Regions from separate parts of the Homo sapiens genome. Here region 2 is linked to region 1. The links come from fine-mapping of genetic effects on gene expression. A gene starts in region 1. The other region holds a variant in brackets. All regions are shown on one strand. Distances are between the middles of the regions.

Region 1 (11,148 bases):
ACCTATACTAAAAATACAAAAATTAGCCGGGCGTGGTGGCGGGTGCCTGTAGTCTAAGTTACTTGGGAGGCTGAGGCAGAAGAATTGCTTGAACCCGGGAGGTGGAGGTTGCAGTGAACTGAGATCGTGCCACTGCACTCCACCCTGGGTGACAGAGACTCTGCCTCAAAAAATAAAATGTATTCAGCATAAGTTAAAATTACAATAAAAATAATTTACTAAGGGGATTGAAAAGGGGCAGAAAATAAGGTCCCTTTAAATAACACCAAAATTAGGACCTGAATTATCCCTATCATAAAATACTGTGAAAATGATATTCTTTTTCTAGTATTTGTATTTAACTTTGGAAAAGTGCTTATCTGTTCAGAAATCTTACCCAATTAGTCCTTAAGGAAATCCTTGTAAGATTTACTGCTTAATGGTATCTGGATGACTTGAGGAATATGTACTTGCGAGTGGCACTTTTATTGTAAAGAATTTCACTATTTAACTTCAAAAGCTACCCAAAGAAAACTAGCTCATTGTAAAAATTTTAACCATAACTGATAAAACAATGATAGGAAATTCAAGACTAAGTCTGTAGATTACTATTTAAGACAGAAAAATTTGTTTCAAGGAAAAGGCTTATTAGCTTTTGTCTCAGGAAACTGCATTAATTACCAGACCATACCTTGGTATGACCCCTTCAACAGAACAGCTTGTTCTCAAAACACATTGGAACCACTGACTTGCAGGATAACCACAGAGCATCTGACACTGGTTCTATTGATTCTCTTCTGCCAAATCCTAGTCATGATGGGAGTTTCATTATATTTAGCCAGTTACTATGTAAAGCACAGGCTAATGACTACAGGGCCAGGGTTGATGTCTAAAAAGCTTTCCACTGTCCAACCTTTGGTTGTATTGCTTCCTCCTACTCCATGAACTCACACTATTGCATAGAAGACGACTCCTTAGTGTAAGCACTGAGGCTCTTCGGGCGGGTGTGTGTGTATACTACAAATCACTATGCTGGTCTGGGGAAGGTTATTACCTTACCTTTTGTGCCTCACTTGCCCCAGCTTTAAAATCAATCCTATCAGGGTTGTTGAGAAAGGGAGTTAAATGAAAAGTTATGTACAGTTGTTAATGAGTAACATTGAATGGAAAGAAACACACCAAAATGTTAACACTGGTTGCTTCTCGGAAGCGGGATAATGAATACTTTTAATTTCCATTTATAAATTTCTGTATTTCCCAAATTTTCTACAACTAGCATATTAATATTTATTGATTCTTCTGATTAGCTTTTAAAGATAGTTACTTTATAATAGAATTGTTTAGATAAGAGAAAAGCTACCATGATACCAGCTGAGCAACACAATCACACTAGCAATTTAAAATGTTATTGTACAGCTCTCAAAAAACAAAACCAAAGTGCCAAAGAATCATCTGGCAACAAATCTTTTCAAAGAGGAAGCATGAGAGAAGCATGAGCTTTGGTTTAAGATAGACCAGGGCTTGAATTCTGACCCCAACACTTACTAGTTGTATGACTGCAGAAAAACGACTTAACATTCCTGAAACTGTTTCTAATTTCCATTATTTGAGGCAACACCATGTATTAAAGGAGAAAAATATAAACAAAGGAGCGGGCATGTAACAGGAGTTCAATAAATGAGGACTGGTATTTCCTTCCAGTCACTGGCATATGTAATAATCACAGTGTAGCTACAATTCTGTTTTCTTCCTGTTATAGAAATAAAATTGATCTGCCCATTACATAAATTAATATCCTGCTTTCTGTGAATTGCTTCGTTTACCTTGCGTCTTTCTTCTGCAGCTTCTAATTTCTTCTGAATTTCCTCCAGGGAAAGATCCTTCTTCTTTGGAGGGGAAAGGGGGAATTCTGGAACAGATTCTTTTGACCGAGGGCTGAGAATCAGCTCAAAAGCCTGGCCTGAGGCACGCTTCTCCAGTTCTTTCACCTGGATATCTAGAATTGATTATATTTATAATTCAGAAAACCAGGATTCTCCTGTTCTAATAAACTGTACTATAATTTTCTAAAACCCAAATCAATTTAATGTATTAAACTAGGGCTGATGAGGAAAGTTGTGTTTTTTTTCCCCTTTTTATTCCTATCAGTCTACTGACACTAGGGGAAGATGTATTTGCAGGCAAGATATTATTATCTAAATACCATTTCCCAAGGCCAGGTACCATGGCTCATGCCTATAATCCCAGCACCGTGGGAGGCCAACATGGGAAGATCCCTTGAGCCCTGAAGTTTGAGACCAGCCTGGGCAACAAAGGGAAAGCCCATCTCTACAAAAAAAATTTTTTTTGATTAGGTGGGTGTGGTGGCCCATGTCGATAGTCCCAGATGCTATGGAGGCTGAGGTGGGAGAATCGCTTGAGCCCACTTGAGCTCCAGAAGTCAAGGCTGCAATGAGCTATAATTAAGCCACTGCACTCCAGCCTGGGCAACAAGGTGAGACCCTGTCTCAAAAAAAATAAAAACCATCTCCCAGAAAAACAAAGCTCAACATTTTTGGATTAATAAATACTGTTTTGAGACATCAGTATCTGACAATCGCTTTCATAAACAAAAGACTTGTGCAAACTCCACAATTTTGCTTCAGACTAAGCCAAACTGTCCAATAAACAATTACGAGCTCTCGGCACATTCAAGTGATAATCATTTTTAAATTCTTCTCCTATTCATAAAATAGGTTTTGGTAAGACCAAAACATAAGTGCCAAATCAAAGGCGAAGACCTGAGCCATCTCAATCTAAAATCATAAGCCCATTACAATTTCAGATTTTCCAAATAGATTACCTACCAGAAGAAGCCATGGTGAATAGAAGACAAGCGACAGGCAGTGTATTCTGCACAATCAACTGGGATAAGGAAAGTCCTGAAAATGATTTTCAAAAACATGCAATCACTTTCTTTGCCTTTCTATATGTCATCAACCCAAAAAAATCTCACATCACATCTACATACATCGTCAGAAAAATACGTGGAATAAAGACGTCTAAATTAACCACGAAAAAAATTATCAAAATCTACTAAATAAACATTGGGAAATATGACCTGAATATGATATTGGTTCCAGAAAATCAAGTTAACTGAGCTTTCTCGGTCATAAAACTCTTGGATTTTTAAAATCAGACAAAGTCACAAGGGTGAAGAATTTTTCCCCCATAAACTCTTTAACATTTCACCGAAACTGTAAGAAGATATTCCAGATTCAACTCAACAGTGCCCCCGGAGCCATCTTAATACTGCCTACAACTCATTGTGCAAATGAAATACCCACCCCTGCTTTGTCTGTGTCTGACGTGGTGGATAAGAAAACGCCCAAGCTAATAGTAACCAATAATGTTGAACTCCTATTGTCCCTCAGGTTTAAGCTTCCTTGCCCAACAGCAAGCAAAATGTTTATGAACCTCTAGATTTTGACTTATATTTGCTGCCGTTATGTCATGAAAAATGCTGTATCTCTTGTTGATCTTTTTAACATTATGACTTTTGTAGACGCCAGCTAGTACCAAAAACGTAGGATGACAGGTTCCCAAAAGCTAGGAATTAAAATCAGAGGCAGCGACAAGATTTAAGAAAAGCAGAGAATTAGACGCAGCACCGGACCCAGGATGGGCGTGGCCCTGGTCCGGGCGAGGAAAAGAGGACCGGTCGCCCCCGGCCAATCAGAGCACGCCTTGCGCTCCGGCCCCTGGCCCCGCCCCCTTCCTCCCCGCGCCTTTTCGAATCTCCCCGAACTCAACACCCCGGAGCCCGCGCGCGTGGGAAGGGGAGGGGTGGGCGGGGCTAACGGTCCAATCCGGGTAACTCCGCCCCTGCCTGACTCCCCCTGCGCGGACGCCCCCCCCAACTCCCGCCAAAAACACCTCCAGGCCGCCGCCACCACCCCCTTCACAGTTCAGCGGGTGGGGCAGGCCCCGGGAACAGGCCCCCGGGTGGTCCCGCGGTGAGCTCGCCACCGCCTCCCGCCGTCCCCATGCCCAACCTGCCGCCACCCACGCTGTCCGCGCGTCCGGCCGCGAAGACAGAAGAACCCTCGTGGGGCCCGGGAGCGCCGCCCCTCAATCACCAGCTGCGGTCGCCAGGGGACGGTCGCAGGGAGGGTCGCGGCCCTGGCTGCCCGCAGTTTGGTCCTAAAGCCGCTGGTCCCTGGGGCACCGCCCCGTCCCTTCAGACAATGGGGAACCCGGCGGGGCCCGCAGGGAAGGGAGGGAGGGAGGGAGGTAAACGAGGGCCCACGCCCCCTATTGTCTCCTCGACGGCACCCCGGAGCGGACGCCCGGTGATCGCCCAGCCCCCTGCCCACGAACAGCCGCGCCCCCGGAGAGCGGGGACAAAGGCGAGGCTCCGCCCGAGCCACACACAAAGCGGAGCGACCCCCGCCCACCAACCCCTCCGAGGCCCGCAGCCCCGCCCGCCGCCCTGCAGCAGGGGGTCGCTGCCACGGCCCAGCCCCTCCCGCCGACCGCGTCCCTCTTGCTGGCCTCAGCCAGCCGCCGCCTCCTCCGAGCCCCGCACCCACCTGCTCAGTCCGAGCCGCCTGACCACACTCTGAGCACCAACAGACCCGGGCGCGCACAAAAGCGCCAAACAGAGGCACGTGACCTCCGCGCGGGGCTCCGCATTGGCCGAGAGCGGCGGCACGTGCCGCCCCCGCCCCCCACAACCCGCGTGGAGCGCCGCCCCCCGGGACCCCGAAGCACCTCGGGAAGTGTAGTCCTGTCCCGGAGGGCAGGAGGACAATGCCGGGGGTTGCAGGGCGCCTGGGGAGCATCCCCAGGTGTGGGCCTGGGACTAGGGGGGTGGTCTCGCCGTGGAAGAGGGCGTGGCAGTGGACCCCGGACTAGGTCCGAACCAGCTCCCCATTCTCGAGAACAAGGGCAGGGCGGAGCAGGCGGAGGGCGGGGGGGTCCTTCCCTACCTTTCCAAACTTTGGCCGCCTGGACTCCACCTTGTAGAGCCACATGCCCGCCTCGCCCCAAGGGCAGCACTCGGACAGAGCAGTGCCCCTTCTAGTGCGCCACCCACATGGGTGCCTAAGACGCCCGAGCCCCTGTGACAGCACAATGCCACTCCACGCCCCTGCAGGGCCCCCTGCCCCCGGCACCCTACACCGACACCGGCGTGTCACCCATATTGTGACATCATCGTAATTTCTAATCCACTCAGCCCACAGGTCGCGGGCGTGGCCCTTCCCTCACTGTGTGCGTTCTTGCCAGCATCCTCAGGTTCCCGAGCCGGTGACCAGGGACCTGTGCGGGAAAGCGTGGGGCTCTGGAATTTGATCGCCTTTGGTCTAACAAAGCCACTCAGCTTAAATGCAGACTCCATCTGTTCTTCCAAGCCTTCTGCGGATGATAGGGGAGGAAGAGCAATAGCCGTTCTAGACTACACAGATTGCAGTTAAGTGTTGCTTTTGTTCTCAGAGCACGTGCTCCCCAGAGCAGCACTGGGTTCTTTTTAAAAATCGAAAAAGGAGCCACAAGGTCACTGTTCTCCCTGACCTGGATAGCTCAGAACCTCAGCAAAGGCACAAAGGAAATTGGTCTGACCGTGCCTTAGAATAACTGGCCCTTTCTCTCACAAAAAGGGGAAAAAAATAAATGAAATGAACATGGTCCCCGCCTCCTCCCATTCTCTGACCAAGACCGTGTCCTCGGTTGGTGGTCAATACACCAAGACACCTGCTTTGAGATCTTGACTAAGCAGAAGAGATATCTTTATTTTATTAATGAGCTGCATCTCCCCAAATCAAGAAACAAATGTGACCAACCTTCCTGAAACAACAGTCCTAATTTAGAAAGACTCTCATGCCTAGTTAGTCACCAGGGATGTGCCAGAGATAAAATACAACTAAGGGGTGCCCAAGACAATAAAAACTGGATCATACAAGCAGCAGCACACTACACAAAGCAAACAATTAGCAATGCGCTGTTGCCTGAAATATGCTTGTTGCGGCATTTTTTCCAACAATCGCCCTTGTGTGGGGTCGGCCTCCCCCCCAAGCCAATCGAAGTGGTTTTCACTTAGCCTGTGAGCAGGACCAGGAATAATTCAGATACTGAGCCTTGAAAGGCTTCTTCTCAGACCAAACTTAGCTTCAAAATGGCTAGGTGCTTCCGTCTGTCATTTTTCTGAACAGAATCTCAGACATCATTAGAAAAGTTGGAGAAGGATGGGCATGAGACCCCTCAGGAAAGCGACAGATAGGCAGGCAACACAAATGAGCAAGGAACCCAAGCCCAAGAGGTCCTTACCCACTGAACAGGCTTTTTATCTTGAAGTCTTTGTATTTGATCTGGAGGTTCACAGAGGAAGGTCCCACTCATTTAATGCATTTTTTTAAGTACAATAAATTGCCACACAAAAGTCTCACATTCCTGACTATTAATGTTGTGACAGAAAAAAGAAATAAATCTTTCAAAACACTGATAATTTGAAAGCACTTACACTGCTTCCCCCCACATTTTCTTTCTCCCTAGAGCAGATGTCTATTTCCATGGAAACCATAGCAAGGAACGTAGATGTTAGAACTCATGTTCATTTTTAATCTTTTTTAGCAATGCCACTTGGCTTCTGGGTTTGTTGGGAGATGCCTGGTTCTGCCAGTCTGTGACAATGTTCCAAGCTCCTCACAGCTGCTTGAGGACTGAGAGGGCTGGGTTAAAGTTTCCCCTAGAATGAGCCTTTGAATAAAAAGGTGCTTTTGAGGTGGGATTCCTGTCCTTTTATTATTATTATTATTATTATTATTATTATTATTATTATTATTATTATTTGACTTAAAAAAAATTGAGACAGGGTCTCACTATGTTGCCCAGGTTGGCCTCGAACTCCTGGGTTCAAGCAATCCTCTTGTCTCAGCCTCCCAAAGTGCTGGGATTACAGGCATGAGCCACCACACCCAGTCTGATCCTTGTTCTTTAGGGTGGGGCTGCCTTCCCAAGAGCCAGATCACAGCTCATTATTGTCAGCTTTTGTGGGTGTCCTATATAAGCCTTGGAATAGGAAGGGCTTTCAACTGTAAGGAGAGACAACAGTTTTGCCACTTCACCTTGGAGAGGGGCAGAATCGCCCTTCTCGAAAGCTTCCTAAAACGAACTTCAAGATCCACTCTCTTCTGAAGTGGCAGCAAGGAGTTAATGTTCACATCTTGGAACTGTCTATCTTTGCCCATAAGAATTATTTTTGCTTCTGCTCAGATGGTTTGGTTGGATTGTTATGGAGCTGGCTGTGACTATGGAGCCACACAACGAAGTGGAGATAGGGCAGTCATCCAGCTTATTTGATCTGTGTAGACAGCTAAAGGAGAGCACTTCAGGCTTCAAAGTCTAGAAGGAATGTCTACACTGATCAAACGGCGGGCCAGGCCGTTGTCAGATCTCCTCTCCTGCCAGAGAGCCCGGCAGCCTTTGTTCATTGTTGGGCTTGAGGCTGCAGGGTTTGTCTCCCACATGGCGCCTCCAAGTTCCACAGCTGCTTTCGAGGCCTGTCCTCGGCCAAAGGGTGTCGTGGGAGAGGTTTGCTTGTTGTCCCCGGTCTCTCTGTTCCCTTTGTCTCCTAATCCTCAAGCACTATGCTCTAACACTCCCTTCTCTATTCAAAACCTGTCTATGAGTCTGCTGTTTTACACATCGATCTCCCTCACTAGACCATTAGGTCCTAGAGGGCAGGGTGCTGTCTTTGTCTTGGTATCCCTAGTGCAGTGCCCATCCTCAGGCCTGGCCCAGGATGATGGCGCCTGAATGTTTGCAGAGAACTTTGGGAAAGAACAACCTCTTGGCCGGGCACGCTGGCTCACACCTCTAATCCCAGCACTTTGGGAGGCTGAGGCAGGCGGATCACAAGGTCAGGAGATCGAGACCATCCTGGCTAACACGATGAAACCCCGTCTCTACTAAAAATACAAAAAATTAGCCAGGCATGGTGGCGGGCGCCTGTAGTCCCAGCTACGCACGAGGCTGAGGCAGGAGAATGGCATGAACCTGGGAGGTGGAGGTTGCAGTGAGCCGAGTTCACGCCACTGCCTTCCAGCCTGGGCGACACAGCAAGACTCCGTCTCACAAAAAAAAAAAAAAAGAACAACCTCTCTCATCCTTCTGTGATCTTCTGTCTCTTCTGTGATATTAGACACTTGCACTCTGGGAGTGGTGAGGATTAAATGAAATAATGTAAATGAAAACAGCACAATGCCTGGCACATTTAAAGTGCTGTGCACTTGTTAGGTATCATTGCTAGAGATGTTTCCTGATTGCTATAGATTATTTTATTTTTATTTTTTGAGACGGAGTTTTGCTTTTGTTGCCCAGGCTGCAGTGCAGTGGTGCAATCTCAGCTCACTGCAACCTCCGCCTCCCAGGTTCAAGCGATTCTCCCGCCTCAGCCTCCTGAGTAGCTGGGATTACAGGTGTGCGCCACCATGCCCAGCTAATTTTTTGTATTTTTAGTAGAGATGGGGTTTCATCACGTTGATCAGGCTGGTCTCAAACTCCTGACCTCAGGTGATCCACCTGCCTCGGCCTCCCAAAGTGCAGGGATTACAGGCGTGAGCCGCGGTGCCTGGCCTGCTATAGGTTATTGAATGAGTGAATGACTATTAGACTTTCACCCTTTGATGGAAATTGTAGTTACTGGGTTAACTCTTCCCATGGGGTTAAATTCAATTCATTTAACACTTTATTTTTTATTTTTATTTTTATTTTTATTTTTTTGAGCAACAAGGCTGTTTATTTCACCTGGATGCAGGCGGGCTGAGTCCGAAAAGAGAGTCAGCAAAGGGTGGTGGGATTATCATTGGTTCTTATAGGTTTTGGGATAGGCAGTAGAGTTAAGAGCAATGTTTTGGGGGCAGGGGATGGATCTCACAAAGTACATTCTCAAGGGTGGGGAGAATTACAAAGAAACTTCTTAAGGGTGGGTGACATTATAAAGAACCTTCTTAAGGGTGGGGGAGATTACAAAGTACATTGATCAGTTAAGGTGGGGCAGAAACAAATCACAATGGTGGAATGTCATCAGTTAAGGCTATTTTCACTTCTGTGGATCTTCAGTTGCTTCAGGCCATCTTGATATATACGTGCAGGTCACTGGGGATATGATGGCTTAGCTTGGGCTCAGAGGCCTGACATTCCTGTCCTCCACTGTAAGAGTTACCCGAAGCTCGGCGTCCATGATGGCCCAGGGGGCTTCCGAGGCGATCGGGCTGTGTCAGTCTTCAGTCGCTAAGCCGAGAAGATCCAATTTAAAATCAGTGAGATGTTCCTTGGGCTGGTTGGTCTGTTCATAAATTTGGAAAGGAGAGCTTTATTTCTCATAAAGATTTGCAGCCTATAGGGTGGCCATTCTTACAGGCTGGGAAATGTAGCCTCTGGTCAGAAGCTCTCATGTAACACTTTAAATAGGTAACACATTCACATGGTTTAAAAATAAAGTATAAGAAGCCCTCCTTATCTTCCAAGTTCTCTACCAACCACTCCCCCACCATAATCTCTGTTAATCAGTTTCCTGTGTATCCAGGAGTTTCTTCATGTGTACACAAGCAAACTTGTAGGTATGCATTCATATCCCCTCTCTTTTTACACACATGATAGCCTCCTGTAACTGTTCTTTGCTTAGCAGTTTTCACTTAACAATACATGTCAGGGTCTGGGTGTGGTAGCTCACACCTGTAATCCCAGCACTTTGGGAAGCCAGGGCAGAATAATCACCTGAGGCTTAGAGTTTGAGACCACCCTGGGCTACATAGCAAGAACCTGTCTCTACAAATAAATGAAAAAATACAAATAAATAAATAAAATTAGCTGGGCATGGTGGCACGGGCCTGTAGTCCTAGCTAAGGTGGGAGGACCACCTGCAGTGAGCCATGATCACGCCGCTGTTCCCCAGCCTGGGTGACAGAACGAGACCCTGTCTCTTTGTTTTTTGAGTCAGAATCTTACTCTGTAACCCAAGCTGAAGGAGACAGGATCTCGCTCTGTCACCCAGGCTGGAGTGCAGCGGCACAATCTCAACTCATTACAACCTCCGCCTCCTGGGTTCAAGGGATTCTCCTGCCTTAGCCTCCTGAGTAACTGGGATTACAGGCACATGTCACCACGCCTGGCTAATTTTTTGTATTTTTAGTAGAGATGGGTTTTCACCATGTTGGCCAGGCTGGCTTTGAACTACTGACCTCAAGTGATCCACCCGCCTTGACTTCCCAAAGTGCTGGGATTACAGATGTGAGCCACCACACCTGGCCAGAGACGCTGTCTCTTAAACAAACAAACAAAAACCACGTCAGGGGTCTTTTCCCTGTTCATACATCAAGGATTTCTTTGATCTGGTGTCCATGGTATGAATATTCCAAGATGCAGTTAACCAGTGGGATATCTGTGGCTCTTTAGGTTATTCCCAGTTATTCAGAATAGCTCACCATGCTGTAATGAATGACCTAGTTCATATGGCATTTCCTATGGGTGTGAGTATATCTGCAAGACATATTCCTAGAAATGGTATTTCAGGGCTAAAAGGCAAGCACATTTGTAATTTGGATGGTGCCAAATTGCCTTCCACGTTGTACCAATTCAACACTCACCATGTGGCACTTTAATTCATTATCTCAACTCATTCAAAAATGATTTGCAAGGCTTTGTCCCTAGAAATTTCAGGCATTAGAGAAAAGGAGGGGGAGGAGCCAAAATCCCAAGAAAGACATGGCTGTCAATTCTGTCTATATTAATAACTCCTATAAATATTTGACTAGCAACAGGCTGATCTCAGAACAGCTCTAGTGCCTGCACTGTGGCACCCGTCTCAGTCCTGTGACTCACATGGCTGCAATGAGATTGGAAGTGCACTTCCATTGGAAGAGACTGGACTGCACTGAGATTGGAAGTGCGCTGTGAGACTGGAAGCTTTCTGAAGGCAGGGTCTTTCTCATTGCTGTATCTCACTCCCCTCCCAATGTGCCTGGCACAGATCTTATTTATTTAATTAATTCTAAGATGTATTTTTTCCCCCACATTTTTTATCTTTGAAATCAGTTGGTCCTCATAGTCAATAAATAGCATGTTATAATTATTGGCAGCATTTTATCTTTTTTGTTGTTCTTGTTGTTTTGAGACAGGTTCTCACTTTGT
Region 2 (8,586 bases), 85 kb before region 1:
CTCAGGGAAGTGAAGTGACTTGCCCAGGGTCACTCAGGTAGAGTTGAGATTCAAACCCACATGTGGCTCCAAAGTCTGCATCTGGATTTGGGGGTGTTTTTTGGCATGGCACCCTCACCTCTCTCCCTGCCTGTTTTCCCCAAAGTGGAAAGGAAGGCCTTTCAAACCAGAGTGTCTCACTCCCCTCTGACCTCCAGACCAGATGGGGCATGAGCCAGCCAGCTCAGCCAGGCTCCCTGTGTCCTGGGAGGAAGTGTCCCCATCCCCCATGCCCCTTATGGGGAGGGAGGGCGTCTGATGCTCTCTCTCTGCCTCCCCCCCCATCCTGTCAGGCACAGGTGACGGGGGCAGCCCATGCGAGCCCTTCTCCTGCTGCTCTGGGAGGGCCAGTTCCACATTGAGCCAGCCTGGTCCCATGGAAAATGATGGCCTGGGCTTTCTGAGGCCTTATCTGATGCCTCTGCAGTTCATGTCCCCCACCAGGCCTCGAGGCTCAGGGTGGGAGAGGGCCCCGGGCTGCCCTGTCACTCCTCTAACACTTCCCTCCCCTGTCCCCAACATGCCCTGTAATAAAATTAGAGAAGACTAACTAGAGTGGTTCTAAGTGCTTTTCCTTTGAGTGGCATGTTGCTCAGCTCCGTCCTTCCATGGGGTGGCTCCCTCTTGGGGCAGAGTTGAGCTGGAATGCTTTCAGGTACTATCTTACCTATCGAAGGCTTGAGTGACTTGCCCAAAATAAGTTTTACGATAGAACAAGTGGTAGGACTTACTGTTTTGAGAATCTGGTGCTCTCTGTTGAGAGAGATCTGGGAGTTAAAATCATTGTCTTAAAAGCAGAGCCTGAGACAGGCATGAAGTGTTTTTTTGTTTGTTTGTTTTGTTTGTTTGGTGGGGCTGGGGGGGAGTGTACTTCCAGAAAAACCAGTAAAAGAAGGAAGGAAGCAGAAGAGGGAAAGGAAAAATGCTGAGCAGGAACAGTCTCAGCCCAGCCTTGGCCTGACCCACAGTGGAAGAGCTGTGGGGCATAAACCACACTGCAGAGCTGAACTGGCCTTTTGGACCTTTTATCAGTCATTGGCTTGGGAGGTGAAGGAAATTCCCAGGTAGGGAGCTCCGTTCTTCCTGCAAGGGGATCTGAGTGGGACACCAAATCAGCATCTACACCCAGGACAGACAGCCAGCGTGGACTTGCATGATCCGCCATCGCACAGGAGGGAAAGGTAATGATTAAAACACAATGTGCCATCCTGGGAAGAGGGCCAGACCTGGAAGTCAATCTTCAGCGTTTGAGATATGGTGGAGATCAGGGTGGACGACCTCTGAGGTCTCTAGCCAGGACCAGTCACATAATTTGCACAGCCCCGTGCAAAATGAAAACACAAGAACCCCTATTAGAAAATCATTTCAAGACGGCAACAGCAAAGTACTAAACCAAGTACAGGATTCTGAGCATGCGGCCCGTTGTGACTGCATGGGCTGTTCACCCATGAAACCAGCTCTGTCTCTGGCAGAGGGGACTGCAGGCTTTGGAACCAAGGAACTCCAGCCTGGGAGCCAGGCACAGCCCGAGGCTGTGCTGAAGGCAGAGAAGGAAATGTGACCCAGGAACTGCATGCCACAGACCAAGACAGTGAGGGCTGGAGCACAAAGAGGGAGTGGGTTAGTGAGCCTGGAAGGAATGTGGCTCTTCCCACAGAGCCTCTGGAGTCTTGTACATCAAGTACCCATCTAATAAGCAAACTCATTGAATATACCGTGTGTGTGTGTGTGTGTGTGTGTGTGTGTGTGTGTGTGTGTGAGAGAGAGAGAGAGAGGCTAAAATAGAAGAAAGCTGCAAAGTGCTGGAGGGCAGGAGTCAAGAGGAGAAAGAGGCCCATTCTGCGCATTCTTGCTGGAGAGAGGCTTTGCAAAGGGACCTGCCTGGGAACCAAGAACTGGGAAGGGGGCCAGGGTGAGGATTCTGAAGTTTGCCCTAGGGGTAGGAGCATATTTTAGGGGTCGAGCGACACACCCCTGGGCTTCCAGAAGTCGGATGGGGCTAAACGTGGAGAGCAACAAGCAGGGAGACGCGACGAATACCAGGCCGAGGGATCTCCAAACGCAGCCAACTCCTCCCGGGGACACAGACCCCGCGGGGGCACGGTCTCGATGGAGGGGAGTGTGCTCCGCGGTATCGGAGCCTACAGCCGCCAGCGCCTCGCCCACTCGGGGGCCGCGCTCCCCTCGCCACCGAGCTGGACCCGCCTCCTGAGGGTGCGCGGAGGTGCGCCTCGGTGCGCAGCTGCGGAGGATCGCTTCCGGGGGGCGGGTCAGCGGAAGTGAGGGCGGTTGAGGCTGGGCGGCCCAAGGTGGAAGGAGGGGCCGTGAGGTGAGAGAGTCCGGGAGCCCGAGCTTGAGGTGAGAAAGGTTCTAGGGAGGCGCGGAGGCGGGAGCGCGACCTTCCAGCCCGTTAGTAGACTGGGTCTACGTGCCGGGCGCTGTGCGGAGCCCGCAGCTCCTGTTCCCGCGCGAGTTCTCGCGGGAGCCGCAGCTGTCCGTCTCACTTGGCCCGGGGGAAACTGAGTCCCCGAAGGGTAGTTGCTCGTCGGAGTTCCCCAGCAAACAGTGACCAAGCCAGACCTCAGGCTTCTAGTTTCGGCTTCGCTGCTTGACGGGCCGGGCTGCCCCGCCGCGCATTCTGAGACCTGGCCGCGGCTCGGAGGCTTCCGCGCACTCGGGTCCGGGTCCTGTGGGTCCAAGGGCCGCTGGGCAGGCGGCGAGCACTTGGCCGACCTTGGCCCAGGTCGGGTCGTCTGCCGCGGGGGAGGGGCGACTCGCCCTGGCGGGTCCCCGCGGGGAGAGGGTCCGCGCGGGTCTCCGGCCACTGCTGCGCGCGGCAAAGTTTCACTGAGCGCGGCGGCCTCCGTGGGGGCCCCCGGGACCAGGGGTGCTGAGCAGGGCCCTGCGCTGGAGGAGCTCCCGTTCTCCTGAGGGGACGCCTGTCAGCAGACAGCAACTGCAGCCTCCGGAGGGCTGCGGGGCGCAGAGGTGACAAGACCCACCGGTGCTGCCGGCGAACCGGGGGAAGATCTTCTAGCCAGTGACACTTGGGGGCGGGGGTGACAGCTGAGTTGGTGTTCCCCTTCATTCGTTTAGTTCAGCGCGTTGAAGCGCTCACTGTGTCCTAGGCAGACACCGTGCTGTGCGCGGGGATCACAGTTATCTAGTTCCTCTCGCGAGGACTCCGAGGGACAGGCAGGGTGCTGCGGAGCGCACAGGAAAGGACCTGACCCTGTCGCAGGGAAGGAAGGTGATGCTTAAGCTGAGCTCTGAGGAATGATGAAGAATGAGCTCGGCGAAGGGGGTGCTGGTGTTTGATGCAGGGCTCAGAGGTGGGCCCAGTGTTGGGGGTTGAGGGCCAGTGTGGCTGG[A/G]GGGCAAGGGGGAGAGCAGGAGGGCTGGCTGCGAAGCGTGCAGGCCTTGGTGCTCAGTGAATGTGGTCTAGAGACGGCAGAGAAAGATGGGTTTGGGACTGATTGTGGATTTTATCCTGTGTTGGCTCTAGTAAGCCAGTTTTAAACGGATGAGCGATGTGATTAACTGTGTTTGGGAAGGATTCCTCTGGCTGTGTGTGAGGGTTAGGCCCGGCTGGGTCTTTGGAGGTAAGGTCGGAGAGGAAGTGGCAGTAAGCACCGTTAGTGCAATTTGTGGCCGACACGGACATTCAGCACAGAGCCTGGCACACAGAGGGACTCTGATAATAAAGGCTTGAACTGAGCCGAGAAGATGGAGCCCACGCAGGAGGTGGCAGGACCTGGACCAGGCTTTGGGTGCTTTGCACTGGCATGACCACTGAGTGACCTTAGACAAGTGCCTTCCCCTGTCCAACTTCCTTTCCCCATGTGTATCGTGAAGTGAATGACACCTCGTCTCCCAAGGGTAGAAGAGGGGACCCTCCACAGGAGGTCTCCAGAAAGAGCTGCTTTGTCAGTCTAGTCTATCTCCCATTCAGAGCCTGTCCAGGGCTCCCCAGTGACCCGGACCTCATGACTTGCCCCCTACTTTTGTAGCTTTATCATGCTCTGCTCCTCTTTCCATGTCCTTCACCTTCTTGTGCTGGACCTGTGCTCTTGCTGTTTTGTCTTCATTTCCTACTCCCTCGCAACTTACTACAGGGCACTAGGGCCAGAGCTCTGACCTCATCTGGCCACCTGCCTAATGCTACTCAGCCTTTGCTAGAAGTATGTATTCATGTCCTATCACTCTGCTGGACAGCGAGTTCCTTGAGAGCATGACTGTGTCTTACTCCTTCCATAGCCCCTACGGTGCCCAGCACAAGGCCTGGCACAAGTGGGTACTGTTGGTGTTTGATGAACAAGTGAATGAACGAGCACACTGATTGCATCTGCTCACCATGCAAGGACTGCTGTGAAGAGCAGTCAGATGTCACCTCACCCATCTGTGTCATGTTTTAACAGTTCATTAAGCACTCAACCCCATTTCACTCATTGACCCTTAAGGTAGCCTCCAGTGGCAGCTTTTCCTGTCTCCTTTTTCCAGATGGAAAAACCAACATTCAGAAAAGTTAAATAACTTGCCTGTAGCTACAAAGCCAGAAGGTGGCTGAGCCAGGATAAACTTTTTTGGCTCTTTTTCTCTGTAGCTCATGAGACTGAGATTGGCATGAGCTGGTGTTCGTTCTCCTATTTTCTCTGATCTCTCCCTTTGCAAGGGCCCAGCAGTGCTTTTACATCTCATCTTCAAGAATGAATCCTGGGCTTGGATAGTACTTATAATTTGGCTAGATGAGCTTTGTAGCTACCAAGGATTCTATTTGCATCTTTAGAAGTTTTGCCTCAAGAAACCTGAGAGCCCAGGAAGGCTCTTGGGTTGGCCAAGCTCACTAGGCAAATCTTTTTTTTTTTTTTTTTTTTTTGAGACGGAGTCTCGCTCTGTCACCCAGGTTGGAGTGCAGTGGCGTGATCTCGGCTCACTGCAAGCTCTGCCTCCTGGGTTCACGCCATTCTCCTGCCTCAGCCTCCCAAGTAGCTGGTACTACAGGTGCCCGCCACCACACCTGGCTAATTTTTTGTATTTTTAGTAGAGACAGGGCTTCACTGTGTTAGCCAGGATGGTCTCGCTCTCCTGACCTCGTGATCCGCCCACCTCGGCCTCCCAAAGTGCTGGGATTACAGATGTGAGCCACTGCGCCTGGCCGCAGATCTTTAACAGAACCTTTAAGAGTCTGGACTTAGAGCTAAGTGTTGGGTGAGGGCAGCCTCTTGGGCTGGTTTTCTCCCCTGTGAAGTCATGGCTCTGCAGGGCCTGGTTTTTTGGGGCTTGTGTGGTGACCATTAAATCCCCACTGTGGGGGGTTGTTTCACAAGAGGGAAATCTGGTGCTCCTCCAGATGGCCTGATATGAAGGAGTCACGCCTCCCGCCTCCCGGAGCTGCCCAGTGGCTGCCTTGTCCTTCAAGTGCAGGAGCTGGTTCAAATGTCAGGAATGGAAGCCACTGTGGTAAGGGGCATTCCCAGGGCAGGGGTATGGTGGGGAAGGTTGGGTGCTGGGCCTGCTGAAGTACTGTAAAAGGTTCTGAGACTCTCCAGTTGAGCACTCCTTTCTCCAGAGGCCTGGAATTGGAGCAAGGCCACCGTTTCACTCCCTCCCCCTAAGAAGAACCAACTATGATCCTGGGGCACTTCAGGAGTCAGTGTATGTCTGCCTTTCTGTACAGAGGACGGGAAGGAAAGCCTGGATAATCTCTACACTCAGCTACTTCCTCTCCCCTTCCCTGACCCTCCCAACATTGACTGCCTTAGCAGCAGCAGGTATTCCCTTGGGTGGCTGGCCAGGGTGTAGGCTGGCAACTGGGGAACCTGCCCTCACTATAATTGAGAGTTGACTTGCCCCTAGAGAGTGCCCTGTCCCTAGGTTTGTGGAATTCAGTCTCCACAAACCTAGAGAGGAGAGGACAAGGACAGTAGTTGGATTCATTCTCTGGGGTTGTAGCTGTCTCCGTCTCTTTGCTCCAGACCATCCCAATCTGGCAAAACAAGCCACATGGGGCTGCTCGAAGTGTAGTAAGAAGAATTGGGACCAACCTACCCTTGAAGCCGTGTGCCCGGGCGTCCTTTGAGGTGAGTATGTTGGAAGGGCAGGAGAGTAGAGGCTCAGACAGTGCTGCTTCTGTGCCCCAAACCCCTTGGTACTGCCCAAGTAGGTTGTTTCCTGGTCACTTTTCATTCTGTTATGAAATATTTGTTAAATGCTTATAAGATATCCTGGTCACTGTGTCCTCCTGAGTGCATACAAACCTGTGACCACAAGGAACCTGACAGGTCCCCCACATGGGACACTGACTATTGTGATTTTTGAGTTGAACTCTGCTTTTCTTCACCAGCCCTAAGAATTGACCATGTAGCCAGTATTTTTATTTTATTATTTTTTGAGATGAGGTCTCCCTATGTTGCCCAGGCTAGGTCTTAAACTCCTGGGCTCAAGCAGTCCTCCTGCCTCAGCCTCCTATGTAGCTGGGATTACAGGCACAAGCCACCATGCCCAGCTCCACTATTTTTAGTGTTTCTCTGAGGCCATAATTCCTCAGCCTTCTCTTTTTGGCCAATCTGGGCATCCTTTACTGGGGTGCTTTGGTCTTACCTCTGTGTCTAGGGATCCTTTAGCACCCACTCAGCAGCAGAGATTCCTACCTGGCCCAGGTCTCTTGAGACCCCTTCTGTGGTAGAAAGCTAAGTAGCATTTATTAGTCCCAGCTGCCTCCCTCTAGGAACTAAATGGTTAAGCACCAGCCCCAAACTATATGGTTCAGATGTGTGCATTTGGAGAGCTGGGATACAAAAGAAATACTTGTGCTTTCTACCCACACAGAGGAGATAGAAATATGTGCATGAAAGGATGTGGGCCCAGGTAGAAACAGAAATGAAGGAGCCAAATCTGTATAAAAGATGCTAAGAAGCAGAGTCTGTAGGAACTGGATCTGGAATTAGAAGAGGTGTCAGGGTTGGTATTAGGGTCAGGAATGGAGTTGGAAGTGTCGCAGGGGTAGGGGGCAGGAAAAGCTGTCCCAGTATTCAGATTGCCAGCTATCCAGAATTGTCTAAAGATCCTGGGCAGGAACTGGTCCTAACTTGCCTCAGAAGCATCAGAAAAAAAAAAGGGAGACAGCTAGGGAGTGTGGCTCACTGCATAGAGGCCGTCCCCACACTTGGCTATACCCTCTTCAGTTCTTTGGCCAGATGCTGGGCAGAGACAATCAAGGGCACAGGCTCTCACAGAGCAGGAATGTATGTGAGCAGTATTGGTAATACTAGATAACATTTACTGAGCACATACTATGTGTCAGGCACTGTGCTGTACTTTATATTTGTTTACTCATTTAATTGCCAAGAGCAAAGGAGCATTCAGGGCTAATCAGGAAAACAAATGGAGGCTTCCCCCAAATGCCCTATTTTAGCACTAGTTCCTGGGTCACTGGAAGTTCTTCTCTGTGTGACCTTGGAGTATCACTTAACTCCTGTGAGTCCCAGGTTTCCTATCTAAATGCAGGAGCGATCAATCCTGGATCCATCTACCATACCAAATAATTTGTAGCAGAAACAGTTGAATCTTACTTGTGTGTAAATATGCATTTATTATTATTATTAAATTACCTTAAATATTATTTAAGGGACTCTTACCAATTTATTTTGAAAATTTAAGCATATGAAAATATTAAAATTATGAAAAGTAAAAGGAAAATAAATTACCTATAATTACATAGTAATAATACAATAACTATTAATGTCTTAGTGTAGTCCTCTTTTTCTAGATGGATGTTTTTTACTTTGTTGTAATCACAGTCAACATGACTGAATCCTAATTTTTCACTTTACTCAACATCTCTAGGTTGAGGAGCTATTTTAAGAAATCCTATTATGGTTCCTTTTGTATAATCATTTATTTTTATTTAAATCTAAATATATTCAAATTTTCAGGTTTGTTTAAAACAGCATTGCTGTAACAATGTAGATCTCAATTAGCTATACAGGATTATAAAAAGCTAGTCAGGAAAAATTTCCTATTGCTGTAACAGGTTGTGGATGACCTTGTACTTGTATTTTCACCAGAGGGCACAGTGGTTTTAGACAGTTGCCATCTCTACTAAAAGGTGACTCAGGCCTTTTCCACTGAAGACACAGAACTGTTTGTAATCCCATAGACTCTCATGTGTCTTGCCTGTTTTTGTTTTTGAATGTGGCTCTGTTGTCCACGCTAGAGTACAGTGGTGCAATCTCAGCTCACTGCAACCTCTGCCTCCCAGGTTCAAGCCATCTTCCCACCTCAGTCTCCTGAATAGCTGGGACTACAGGCGTATACCACCATACCCAGATAATTTTTGTATTTTTTGGTAGAGGCAGGGTTTTGCCATGTTGCCCAGGCTGATCTCAAACTCTTGGTCTCAAGCATTCTGCCTGCCTCGGCCTCCCAAATGCTGGGATTACAGGTGTGAGCCACCATGCCTGACTGTCATCTGGCCTCTGTTCAATGTTTTCGACCAGGAACCTTCTTCTGCCCCCTCTAGGAAGCCTTCCTGACACCCAGTGCCGGATT

The links. PIP is the estimated chance that this variant, and not a neighbour inherited with it, causes the effect.
Region 2: its variant is fine-mapped to the expression of STMN1 in whole blood (TOPMed, PIP above 0.99).

The regions. Positions count from the first base shown.
Region 1 is chr1:25,901,839-25,912,986 of GRCh38, forward strand. It overlaps STMN1 (stathmin 1), which reads right to left and starts at 4,581. Exons shown (of 5, transcript NM_005563.4): 1 at 4,551-4,581; 2 at 2,826-2,900; 3 at 1,803-1,975. The coding sequence starts at 2,838. MIR3917 (microRNA 3917) reads right to left here and starts at 4,616; the gene lies at 4,524-4,616. LOC105376885 (a long non-coding RNA gene) reads left to right here and starts at 4,712. Exons shown (of 2, transcript XR_947102.1): 1 at 4,712-4,808; 2 at 5,198-6,405. RefSeq lists silencers at 3,520-3,814, 3,594-4,013, 4,404-4,493, 4,514-4,823.
Region 2 is chr1:25,817,633-25,826,218 of GRCh38, forward strand. It overlaps SELENON (selenoprotein N), which reads left to right. Exons shown (of 12, transcript NM_206926.2): 12 at 1-589. It overlaps MTFR1L (mitochondrial fission regulator 1 like), which reads left to right and starts at 2,322. Exons shown (of 7, transcript NM_001099625.2): 1 at 2,322-2,397; 2 at 5,387-5,496; 3 at 6,012-6,116. The coding sequence starts at 5,473. LOC646471 (a long non-coding RNA gene) reads right to left here and starts at 5,974. Exons shown (of 1, transcript NR_024498.1): 1 at 2,322-5,974. RefSeq lists enhancers at 365-865, 2,508-2,647, 3,028-3,117 and silencers at 2,108-2,297, 2,748-2,917. The variant A/G (reference allele first, on the strand shown) is at 3,411.